Linked DNA regions of Homo sapiens: regions 1 and 2 are each reported to be linked to region 3. Evidence: microRNA targets listed by miRTarBase, many of them from high-throughput screens and not tested one by one. Region 3 holds a microRNA gene; each other region holds the end of a gene's coding sequence.
Evidence for each region. Region 3 holds the annotated microRNA hsa-miR-4736 (AGGCAGGUUAUCUGGGCUG, at 1,382-1,400, shown strand). A microRNA usually pairs through its seed, bases 2 to 8, with sites in the 3' UTR of a target mRNA and lowers its output. Matches are read on the target gene's strand: a 7mer-m8 pairs with bases 2 to 8, a 7mer-A1 pairs with bases 2 to 7 and ends in A, and an 8mer does both.

Region 1: the mRNA of CCDC106 is a reported target of hsa-miR-4736. Seed matches in the 3' UTR shown: 7mer-m8 at 3,545-3,551.
Region 2: miRTarBase lists NECAP1 as a target of hsa-miR-4736. Seed matches in the 3' UTR shown: 7mer-A1 at 2,370-2,376.

Annotation. Positions count from the first base shown.
Region 1 is chr19:55,652,222-55,656,356 of GRCh38, reverse strand. It overlaps CCDC106 (coiled-coil domain containing 106), which reads right to left. Exons shown (of 5, transcript NM_001370470.1): 5 at 3,196-3,927. The coding sequence ends at 3,611. It overlaps U2AF2 (U2 small nuclear RNA auxiliary factor 2), which reads right to left and starts at 1,322. Exons shown (of 12, transcript NM_007279.3): 1 at 1,204-1,322. The coding sequence starts at 1,252. RefSeq lists enhancers at 497-576, 1,527-2,196 and silencers at 937-1,076, 1,287-1,336, 1,427-1,476.
Region 2 is chr12:8,095,516-8,099,626 of GRCh38, reverse strand. It overlaps NECAP1 (NECAP endocytosis associated 1), which reads right to left. Exons shown (of 8, transcript NM_015509.4): 7 at 3,924-4,026; 8 at 1,746-3,585. The coding sequence ends at 3,537. Among named protein-coding and RNA genes, the nearest start is that of NECAP1, 15 kb to the right of the region's middle.
Region 3 is chr17:58,333,269-58,337,403 of GRCh38, reverse strand. It overlaps MIR4736 (microRNA 4736), which reads left to right and starts at 1,382; the gene lies at 1,382-1,428. All of the region lies in intron 2 of TSPOAP1-AS1 (TSPOAP1, SUPT4H1 and RNF43 antisense RNA 1), which reads right to left. RefSeq lists enhancers at 1,057-1,266, 895-1,436, 1,457-1,636, 1,657-1,706, 1,777-1,996 and 3 more.

The DNA of each region.
Region 1 (4,135 bases), not on the chromosome of region 3:
CCCAGGACACTGTTTCCTAATACAGCCCCTACCCAACTCTAGCCCGGGTTCAAAGGAAAATTCCTCAGCCCTCATTTCGTCCTCCGAACGAGCTAGGAACATGGGCAGCTGAAGCCTGAAAAGAAACAAGTCTCCAATCTTCCCTGGTCCTGTATTTCTTCACAAACTGAAACACGGAGGATTTTTAAAGCGTCTTAACAACTCTCCCACTTCTAATATTATTGGAATCCCTAAGATCAGGGCCCCAGGCTTTTTGTTCTAACCCATCACAATTTTCGATACCCTGAAGGGAACCTGCCTCCCACCTTCCCCGTAAGTGAAGAGTTTAGCGCAGTGGGCCAGATCCCTCTTCCTCCCTCAGAACCTGTTTTCTTATCTCTATATTGAGATCTGAGACTGAGTATTATCAGGTGCCCTGAGATTGGGATTGTAAATGATTTGAGGTTTGTCTCAAACACTCCATATCGCGATTCTCGGGACCGCCAAAAGCCCCGCATATGCAGGATGTGTGCGTGCGGACACTCAAAGAATGCAGATGCTTTTAGGCAACATGTGCCAAACACGTTAATATGAGGCGCCCCACTACCAACAGACGGGGCAGAAACCACCTGGCGGGAGAGATCAGAGCAAATCAGCAAAAAGGAAAAGGGGTACGCGAGGGGCCCGTGGCCTCCAAGCATCCGCCGAAACGGCTCTGCCCTCATCCACGTGAAGGAAGGAAAGGGGCCCCCCCACCAAGTTCTCACAACCGCCATTTTGGAAACAAAGGGGGCGTGGAGACGCTGCCGTGGGCCCGACCGGAAGCGGAAGTGCCAAGGCAGCGGGAGAAAAGAGATTACGGGGACTAACATAATCTCCTTTTCAGAGAAACCAAAAAGATTTTAAAAAACAAAAGTTCACGTCGAGGCATCTGGCGCGCTCGTGCCGCGTCCCCCGCGCCACCTCCGCCAGGACCACGTGGGGCGCAGGGACAGCCGCCGTGCGCATGCGTCACGGGCCCGCGCCCCGCCGCCCCCTTCCCCTCGCCTAGCGCGCGGCGGAACGCTGGGGACGTCACGTGAACGAGGCGCGCGCCACGGAACCAGGGTTGGGGGGCGCCGCGCGGCCGTGAAGTGGGGGGAAGCGAGGGAGAAAATGGCGGGGGGGCAAAGAGCGACGCGAGGAGCCGCCCACACCTCCGCCCCGCGACCCCGGTGCCCTCACCTTGTTTATTCTCGTTGAGCTGCCGCTCGAACTCGTCGAAGTCCGACATGCTGAGGCGGCCGCGTAGGGCCCTGTGCAGCTTTCGCCTCGCCTTGCCGCCCGCTCCAGCCGCTTCGGCTACTTCCGCCGCTGGCTTCGGCTACTTCCGGCCGCCGCCGGCGCTTCGCCACCTCCTACCTAATCAAGCCTCCGGCAGCCCTCCCCGCCCCGCCCGGGCTCCGCCCCCTCACCCGCCCGCCCGCCCGCGAGCTTGCCCCTCCCCCCGAGCCTGGCTCCGAAGCGCCTCGGCTATCTCCGGATACTGGACGAAGGCGAAGCAGGCGGCCGCTTCGGCTGCTTCCGAAAACACCCGAACGTAGGGTTTCGCCGACTTCCCAGGTTTCCGTAACTTTTCCGAGATTATCTCCTCAACGTTCGGAGGTTTCCGTGTGTCCTCGTGTGCCACTGCGCCCAGTCCCCTCTGCGAGTTCGGGTTCTTCCAACAATTCAATCCGTCCCAGTCTTTGGCTTCTTCCACGGACTTGCTCCGATCTTCTCCGCCGGCCCTGTCCAAGCAATCGGCCACTTCCGACAATCCTAACCGTCCCGGCCTTCGGCTCTTTCCGGAGATTTCCGGATCTCGCCCTCGGGCCCCTCCTGGGATTAAGCTCGAGTCCGTGTTTCGGCTCTTTCCGGAGATGCCACTTGCTCACGCCTCCGATCAGAGAACTTCGGCTCCTTCCGCCACCGCTTCGTGAAGGCCTCACTCTCCGGGGACAGCTTCGACTTTTTCCGTGGGTACCTCGGCTCCTTCCGGCTTCGGGAACGGAAAAGGGAAGGAGAACAGAGACGAGATGGATCAGGGGAAGGGATAGAGAAGGGGACGAGGTCCTAGTTCTCGGCACCTGGCTCTCCGGGTGGGGAAAGTGAAAGAAAAAAAGGGCCGGCCTCGCGGAGGGCCTGAGAAGGTTGTGCCAGACAAAAGCAGCAAGAGGGATGAAGGGTGCGCGCGACCGCTGCGGAGGTTGCCAGCGCGGCTTTTTGCGCCTGCGCAGGGTGGAAGCCGCGGGTGAGGGGAAACAGGCTTCTGCGCCTGCGTAAAAGTCGTTCTGTGGCGCGCTCTCCCACTGCTCCCGTGAAGGGGGTTGCGGGGACCAGGTTTCAGTCCCCATTGCGCGTGCGCGAGATTTCCCTTACAACGGTGAAAGTGCTTAATCCCCAGCCGTTAAATCCGGCCACCCTCTTGGTTGTCTCGGCAACCACATCAACGCGCTCCGGCTCTTCCCGCCGCGCAGGCGCGGCAGACGGATCATCTGGCATTACTTCCGGGAGACAGATGATCTGGCGTTACTGCCCCCTGGCGGCCCAACGGAAGTATCCTCCAGACTTGGCCTGGCCGCTAGGTGGCCTCCCTCGCTAGAGGTCATCGACTCACGCCTCTCGCGCCGCGCTCCGGTCTGGGTAGCCCAGCGGGTAGTGTCCACGCTTCTTTTTACTTTTTTTTTTTTTTTTTTGAGACGGAGTCTCTGTCGCCCAGGCTGGAGTGCAGTGGCGCGATCTCGGCTCACTGGAACCTTCGCCTGCCGGGTTCAAGCGATTCTCCTGCCTCAGCCTTCCAAGTAGCTGGGACTACAGGCGCCCGCCACCACACCTGGCTAATTTTTTGTATTTTTAGTAGAGACGGGGTTTCACCGTGTTAGCCAGGATGGTCTCGATCTCCTGAACTCGTGATCCGCCTGCCTCGGCCTCCCAAAGTGCTGGGATTACAGGCGTGAGCCACCGCGCCCGGCTGTGTCCGCGCTTCTTTTCCCGAGCTCTGCCTCCGAGTTTTCTGGGGCGCAGCTGCTTCACTCTCCATCTCTGCCTCCGGGGGGCTAATTACACCGTATCCTACCCGTCCTCCCGCCTGACCACCCACCCCCTTGGAAGCCCCCGCAACCCCGTCACCGTCTTCGGGGCGACGGCCGCCCCCTCCCAGGCACGTCCCCCTCCTAGGAAGAGGCTGAGGCCAAGTTTATTCCAAATTTTCACGTCGTTTTTTAATTTAAATTATCTGAATAATTCTCTGTCTCACGCGGAGTTGGGGAGGTCTGTCCGGGAATCAGGTGGGCAGCTCCTCCGCGGGGCCAGGGCGGAGACGGGGTCTGTACAGTCCCCCACTCGAGGGGGGGGCACCCGCCTGCCTGGTTTTCCAGGAGGAAGGGGCCCGGCGAGGACAGGGCTGGGCAGCCCAAGCGGAAGGGGGTGCCGGCGTTCGGGAAGGGGCCGCGGCCGGTCCGGGGCCGTCGCGCTTGGGGGCCCGGCTAAGGGAGCCCCCAACCCAGGGAGCGAGGAGGAGGGGCAGGGGCGCGGCGGGGAGAGGGGCAGGTCATCCACCGGGGTCCACGGGGGAGGAAGGCCCGGGTGGAGGCGCGGAGGCGTGGTGCGATCACCGCTTGAAGCGGTAGGTGATGGGCAGCAGCAGCTTGCTCTTCTTGAGCGCCTGCACCTTCTTGAGCGTCTCGTCGTCCAGGGCCAGAAAGCAGCGGCGGGAGTACTCGAGCAGGCGCTCCTTGGAGGGGTCGAACTCGCCCACCTCGGCCAGCTTCTCGGGGGCCACAATGAGCAGCTCGGCGATGGGCGTGGTCAGCGCCACGGTGTTCCTGTCCACGCGGTGGTGCTCGAAGGCCCGCGACATGCTCTTGAGCTTCTGGAAGGTGCCCAGGATCTTCTTGTACCGGCAGAGGACCCCGTCGGCGTCCTTCACTGAGGGGTGGAGGCGGGGACACGAAAGTGAGGGGCAGGGCACAAGACTGAGGGGGCGGACACGGGAAGGGAAACGGCCATGGGAAGAAAGGATCTCGGCGAGCAGAGGCACGGGCCGGTGCAGGTGGAGACGGAGAACAACAGGCAAGGAAGGGGCAGAGAGGAGGGGAAGAATCGCAGCCAGATCTTGGACCAGTGGGAAATGGGA
Region 2 (4,111 bases), not on the chromosome of region 3:
ATTACAGGGGTGAGCCACCGCGCCCGGCCCCCAGTGTGCCACTTTTAAACTTATGAATAATTTTTGTAATTTTCCAGTTAGTATTTTCAAAGCACAGTTGACTGCAGGTAACTGAAAGCACAGAAAACAAAACCTCAGATAAGGAGGGACTATATAGTAATATAGCTACCCCTGCCCTCTTTTGGTTTCCATTTGCATTAAATATCTGTCTCCATGCCTAACTTTCAGTCTCTATGTGTCCTTAAAGGTGAAGTGATGCTCTTGTAGGCAGGATACAGTTGAGTCTTGTTTTTTTAATTCATTTAGCCACTCTGTCTTTTGATTGGAGAATGTAATCCATTTTGCATTCAAAATAATCATTAATAGGTAAGGACTTACTGCTGCCATTTTTCAAATTGTTTTTTGATTGTTTTGTGGGCCCTTTGTTCCTTTCTTCCTCTCTTGCTCTATTCCTTTGTTATTTGATGATTTTCTATAGTCCTTTGATTGTTCTCTTTATCTTTTGTGTATCTACTATAGTTTTTGCTTTGTGGTTACCATGAGGTTTACATAACACTTTTTAACAGTTTATTTTAAGCTGATAATTTAAATCACATACAAAAACTCTGCACTTTAACTTTCCCTCCCATATATATTTTTTGTTTTGTTTGAGACAGGGTCTTACTATGTTGGCCAGGTTCGTCTTGAACTCCTGGTCTCAAGCAATACTCCCACCTCAGCCTCCCAAAGTGCTAGGATTACAGGCGTGAGCCACCACACCCAGCCACATTTTGTTTTTGATACCAATTTTCATATTTTCATACTGTGTATCCACTAACAAATTACTGTAGCTATAGTTTTATGGTTTTGGGGGGGTTTTGTTTGTTTTTTTTGGAGATGGAGTCTCACTGTCACCCAGGCTGGAGTGCAGTGGTGTAATCTTAGCCCACTGCAACCTCTGCCTCCCAGGTTCAAGTGATTCTCCTGCCTCAGCCTCCAGAGTAGCTGGGATTACAGGCACCCACCACTACGCCCAGCTAATTTTTGTATTTGTAGTAGAGACAGGGTTTCACCATGTTGGCCAGGCTGGTCTCGAACTCCTGACTTCTGGTGATCCACCCGCCTCAGCCTCCCAAAGTGCTAGCATTATAGGTATGAGCCACCATGCCCAGCCTTGATTCATGTTTTTTGTTTTTTCTTTTGAGAGAGTCTCATTTTATCATCCAGGCTAGAGTACCATGGTACAATCACAACTCACTGCAGCCTCGTCCTCCCAGGCTCAAGTGACCCTCCCACCTCGGCCTCCCAAGTAGCTAGGACTACAGGCACATGCTGCCATGCCCAGCTAATTTTTAGATTTTTTGTAGAGATAAGATCTCGCTATACTGCCCAGGCTGGTCTTGAACTGGCTTCAACCAATCTTCCCACCTTAGCCTCTCAAAGTGCTGGAATTACAGGAGTAAACCACCAACCACATCTAGCTAATTTATCTCCTGTGGCAATCACTGAACAAGAACTCCCAAGACCTTTTCTGGTTTCCAAAGTCTGTGGTTCTGACCTTAGTTATTTCTCTTATACTGATCCCTTTCATTTCTGCTGATTACAGTTAAGATATAAGAGGTGGCCTAGATCATGAAGATAATTTGAAGCAAATTAAATTAACTGTACCAGAAAATAAATAATGAATATTCATTGATTACACAGAGTGCTCTGTCATTTTAGAACCATGAACACAGAGGTCTAGTCTCAACTTCTTAAAAGCCTTATTTCTTAATAAAGAGTGATATAAATATCCTTTATTAACTACTGGTCCACTTATATTTGGTCAATTAAATTTAAAAGGTAATCAAATAAGCAAATTAAAAGATAAAAGAGACACTTTTTTCATATTTTTAATTACCATTATTGCACCAATACAGCATACACTTTATATACATATATCTTAAACATTTTCCATTTTTCAGGAATTCAAATACATAATATATTATCATCTCAAGAATACAAAGAACACAACATGGAGGAAGATTGAGAAAATAGGTTCCCAGTATTTAGTCACTAGTGATTCCACAGACTTTCCTTTTAGTGTTTTCTATTGGAATTTTAACATGTCCTGCTATGGCTCTGCAAGAATAGAGCTGCCTGGAAAAGGAGGCAATGAAAAGAAAATGGACCCAAAGTCAGAAAAAGTGAAGAAGAGAATCCAGGAAAGTAATATATTTTGAAACTAAACATAAGGACTCCCTTCGGCCAGAGTGTACATACCCAATAGGTGCAAAAAGGAAGCAATGATATCTTCCCATTTCATCCTCAAAATTGCTCGTTTAGAAACAAAATAGAAAGTACCCATTCACCTAAGAAGCAGAACTTTTTTCACAGCATTGTAATAGGAATGGCAGGGCAGAGGGAAAGGAAAGTAGTGGGAGAACAACTTGCTTTTAAGATACCCTGGGTGACAGGTATCAAAGCCTTGGGCAAAACCTGTCACAGTAAAGCTGTGACTCTCCAACTTCCTTCACAAATGACAATATACATAATAGCAGCTTTCTATTAAAGAACTACATGAACTGAAAAGAAATGTTTATGGAAAGGGGCCAGATACCCAGGCAGCAAGGCAATGAGGATACTAAACAAGAGTTAAGTGCTTTCAACCTCTCTGCTCTACAGATCAGGTTAAAAACTCTAAACCCTTCAACTTTAGGTCAAAGAACAGGGCAAATACAAATTAATGCCATGCTTCAAATGCAGCAACCAGATGGAGCTGCAAGAAATTAAACACTCCTATAGACTATCACTTGGAAAGCACAGCCTCTTGAACCTCCTTCATTACAGATACACCCACTGATCAAAGATGTTAACACAATTCAAACTCAACAAACAGAAAAGAGTAGTGGAGGTGCCACCAACACAACCCTCTTATCATAGAAAGAGACATGTAAACACACAAGAGGGTGATGGAGCTGCACCCAGCACTGGATGTTCACTGAGCACAATAAGCCTGAAGGAGACTACACAGCAGAGACCCAGGAAATAGGTCTTTCTCCATATCTACCCCTATCAAAATTCTGAATTTGTAAACACTGAGGTCAGCCTGTCCATTTTTAGTCCTGGGTTAGTGGAGAAGGAAGTTGCAAGGTTTTTGACTCCCCTGAAATTGCTAAATAGGGCTTCACAAAGAGGCACACAAGGGTCATGAGATGATTTTGAAATAAGTTAAAGAAATTAAAAGATGAGACAAATTTTACAGATGTTAGAGGTCATTCCCCCTCAAACAGACGCTGGCCTTTTAAGCCCTGCATAGTCAGCCAAAACTATGATAAGATCCACTAGTCCCCTACCTTGGTACTACGCAGGAGATAACAGATACTTTCTTGGCTGTACAAGTAACAACACAGGGGAGTGACATAAACCAGCTTGAATGTGATGGAGAAGCTATGAAAAAGATTGTCCAGTCATTCTGGTTCTGGGGAGGAAATGGGTTCCTAACTTCCCTCACAGATTGGTGCCCTCAAGGTCATTTTTATTCCTCAAGTCTGTCCTTAATGTCCTGCCAATGCCATTCAGAACTGGACCCAGTTGGATGGCTGTGGTGCCTGGTTTGGAACAGAGCTGCAAGACAGGAGAACAGAGAAAGCCAGAGACATAATATTAGGATAACAACTCCATTCTTTACTTAATAGTTTCTAAGAAATCACTGCCTAGAATTTCCAAAACCACACTTCATGGCAATTCTACTTACAAAGGCCTGAAATATCCCACTCAAACCTCATCCTACAGCTTTTTTGTCCCCCCATTCCCAGCACTACTATATTTCCTTCACTAGAACTCTTCCAAAAGACTCTATGTGACCTGCATATCCATTGCTTCTCCAGATCAAAGATTTCAATTGACTGTACATATCTCCTACACCCTGATTGAGAGTATGCTAGTTTCACTATGCCCATTACCTGGAGGCAGTGCTGAAGTCTCCCCACAAGTCATTGCTTACAGAAACTGGAGTTGGTGCTGGTGTCGTGACAGGAGCAGGAGAATCCAAATCTAAAAGGATATCTAAACACAAGGTAAGAAAAGAAAAAAGAAAAACATAATCAAAATCTTGGAAGGGCCGGGCGCGGTGGCTCACGCCTGTAATCCC
Region 3 (4,135 bases):
AAGATAAGGGGAGAATTCTACTAGAGCCATTCCTAGCCACCCTGCCTTCTCTGCATTTTGGGAGGTGTGCCCTCGAGCCAGCTGAGAAGATACCATGGCTGCCTGGGGGCTGGGCAGGATTTGGAACACAGATACTGCTGCTTCCTCCTGCGAGGTCTCTGGGCTCCTGTGCTCTTGGGGACTTCCTAGAGCACAAACAAGTCTTTTGGTCAACTCCCTCCCCATTTTTATAGGTGAAGAAACAGGCTGGGGTTTAGGGGCAGATTCAGTGACTGGCCCAGAATTGTACCATAAATAATCACAGGGTGAGGATTAGACCCCTAGTTTCTTGACACTTAATTTTATCCTCTGCTTGGTGATCCTGATGTTGGGATAGGGAGTGGGGCTGATGAGGGATTGTAGTGGGTTCCAGGCAGAAAACCAGCTCTTGGACCCCCTCCCTGTCCCCGCCACACATACACACACAATTTATTTGCAGCAGTTGGAACTGGAGCAGGTGCAGCTATGCAAGTTAAACCCAGCACCTGTGTGTGGAGAGAGTCCAGAGGGAGCTTTCATCTCTCCACTTGTGTCCCCAGAAGATCCCAGAGGAGAAAGCTTCTGGTTTCACGGCCACTCCCACAGCAGTGGTCAGGGTAGCCTTCCTCACACCCACACCCCCTTTCCACCCAGCCCGTCCTGCCTTTTCCCAGATGTTGTGGAAAGAACCCAACTTGGCCCTAACTTGTTTTGTGACCTCAGGCTGCCTTCTGCCTCTCTCTGGGCTTGCAGCTCTGTTTCCTGACTCGGGACCAGTTGCTGCCTAACCTTGCTGCTTAAAAGTCCTTGGGTCTTATGATCCCAGGAGATCTGAGCCAGAACCCTGCCCCAGTGCGAAGTGACCTCCTAGTGTGGGCCACTGTGCATTGGAGCTGCCCCTTGCCAGACAGAGTAGAGCAGGAGAGTATGAAATTAAACCTAGGGGAGTCTGGTACGAGCAGGCAGGGGCTGAGGGGCAGCCAGTTTGCCCGCCCTCCTTGCCTGGAGGCCCTTTAGCACTCCTTGTGCTCCCAAGGCTCTGAGATGAGACAGATCTTCTGAGGTGCTGAGATGATCTCTGTAGGGGACATGGGCTGTCTTAGGTTCTTAAGGCACTTGCCTCTCTTGGCACCTGCTTCCCTTGGCTGCCCCTCCAGGGAGATGGGGAAGGGTCTCAACATTTGGGACTATTGACTCCAATTTGCTTTAGCCCCATTTTGCAATGCTAGGGGCTCAGTTTCCCTCCTTTGTGGCCAGGCCTGTCCCCAACTGTAGCTTACTGGAGGGCGGGTCTGCTCTGCCTTCTGGACTTCCTGTTTGTGAGTGGTTAAGTCTGTGGCTTCTCTCTTGTTGGCTCTTTGTAAGGCAGGTTATCTGGGCTGCCATCTCCCACTGGCTGCTTGCCTGCCTGTGAGTGAGGGCCCCAGGCCCATGCAGATGGCAGGGAAGGGTTGGTTTTCTTTTCTGCCTTCATGTGCGGACAATGAGCTTGTGTCATTTCTTCCACCCTCTGGGCCTGCTCTCCTTACAGGCATTAGGCCTTCAAAAGACAATTTTCTCCCTGTTTCTCCTCCTTGCCCAATCTCTCCTTCTAAACCCTCTTCCACCTGTACTCACATTCTCCAGGAAGCCTTCTCTGATGGGACTCCTGTGACTCTAAGGTTGCTACTACAGCATCCAACATCCCAGCCCCTTGGGCCCTGGCAACTGCCACCTGGGATGGCCTTGTGCCTGTTGCCGTTACTATGTTAAATGTAGATGTGTGTGTCTACTTCACCCTCAGATTCAGTGCTCACTAGAAGTAGGAACCAAGTGTCCCCATCAGACCTGAAGCTCTGCCCCTGCTTTGGGTACAAGACACTCACTTGCACTGACACACACACTCGTACACACTGCCTATCAGGCTGGGAGTGCCCAAGGACAGGTCCTGTGTCCTTTTCTCTGCCGGCTCACCTTTGCCTACCCACAGCCTCAGCTTGGCACACAGAGATGGTTGTCCCCCAGGTCGGTAAGGTGGGGGTGGCAGTGAGGGACCATGAGCCTGGAGCCCTCCAGGATTCCAAGCCCAGATCCCTCTATCCTGATGAAGGGCTGTTCCCACCTTGTTCCTGCCGCCCCCGCCCCCTACTTCCTCTGAGCAAGAATCTGAATGTCAGAACCAGGGAGGGCCGTGGGGGACTTTTGACAGCAAGTCCAAGTGAGCCAAGGTTGCCCAGTGACAGCCTGCTTGAACCTGGATCGGCCGCCAAGGAGGCGGAGTTTGAAGTATCAACTTGAACTCCTCTCTCCACAAAGACATCAAGGGTTTGGTTTTTCTCATCCTGGGGAACTCAGGCAACAGGTGGCTTTGGAGGCAGGAGTGGGAGCCAGGCCACTCTCACAGAGGTACTTATGTTCTGAATCCACCCCCAGCTCCTTCCAGTCACCCTGTCAAGCACTGGCCCCAGATTCCCAGGTGACCCTCCCTGTGTCTCTTGGGGAGGACGCAGGTGTGTCCAGGAGTGTAGATAGGCCTCCTCTAGGTGTGTGTACAGGACTGCGGGGTGTGTCGGCGACAGCGTGTCTGTGTCTGAATGTTTTGGGCTCTCTGGGCCGCTGTGTCTGCATGTGTGTTTCCATGCAGGCACTGGCTGCTCTTCCCTCAGGCACCTGCTGGTCAGTCACACAGGCCACGCATCTGGGTGGTGGCAGCCTACGTCAGGCTTCGAGTCCAGCAGCCTTGTTCCAGTCACAGGTGGACGGCCCATTCCATGTATCCTAGCCATTCTCACAAAGTTTCTTATTGTCTCTGTATTCTTATTTTAGACTCTGCCCCTTCCCCTGTCCTTGATTTTGTCTCTGGCCCTGTACCATTTCTTCTGGTTTGAGGCCCAGCAGAGTCGGGAGTCATCGCTGGGCTGGGGAAAGTCCAGGTCCTCATTCCATCCTTCTTTAGCCCCAGCCTCGGGATGGGAACCAGCAGAGGGCCTAGACTATCCAGAAACCCCCTGACCCCAGAAGCTCCGTTGACAGAGAAGCTGGGCCCTAAGCTCTCTTCTCAAAAAAAGAAAATAGATAAATAAAAATAAAAACTATTGGTGGTCTTTAGGCATTGAGGTTGTACAGAGAAAATCAGCCTCTGTTGTCACAAGACAACAGGCAGCAGGGACACCTCACCCTGCTCAGGACAGGAGAAGGGCTAGATTGGAGACTGTTGGAGCCATGTGTGTCCCTTGGAACCTCAGCTCTGACTCGCCACAGGTCACATGCTGAGGGGTCTATGGCATAGCTGGGCCCAGAAGCCGGGCTCCTGGGTCCCATTCTGTGACTCTCTTTTGTGGGGACAGGACGCCTCTGAAGTGAGGGCTATGGAGGCATCATAAGCAGGAGTAGGAGGTAAGATGCTCTCAGGGGAGGAGCCCTGAAGAATGGGGGTCCAGGAACCCAGGTTACTGCACAACTTTGATATTCTTATCCTCTTATCGCCTGGGGCAGCCACTTCCCCTCCACCCAGGTCAGAGGCAGCGGTGGTCTCTTAAAGGAGTATCGCCCCATTTCTGGCCAGCTGGCCCTGCAAGGCAACCCTCCTCACCACTTTCTCTTTAGACTCAAGGGGGTGAAAGGCCCCATTCCCCCTTTCTCTGTCCCATTTTAGGGACCTGGGAATGGGGCAACTTTCCAGGTTGAAGGACCCCCTTCCTGGAGGGAAGGATGTGGGGCCATCTCCCTCCCCACTGCCCCCATGCCAGTCCTCTTCTAGGCCCTGAATCTGACAGCTCCCTAAGGTCTGTGTGGGCCTAAACGGAGGACCCAGAGAAGAGGTCCATGGCCTTCTGGGAAGGAGTCACTGGGTGGTTTTCTCTCTACCGCTCCTACCTCCCCAAACCCATTCCTCTTGCTTCCAGAGCCAAGCCCATGGAGAGGCTTGGAGAACGCTGGGGGAAGATGGTATGGGCTGGGCTCAGCCGACGCTGTCCCCTGCCCACCCCCACACCCTACTCCCCTCCCCCAGCCAGGGGCCCTGGGCTGGGCAGCTTCCTGCCTTCCCCATGGGGAAATCGGGGGTGGCATGCAGGTGGGTGGGCCCCATGCCCACATCCGGTGGCCGCCAGAACCTTCCCTCGAGCCTCTTTCCCGC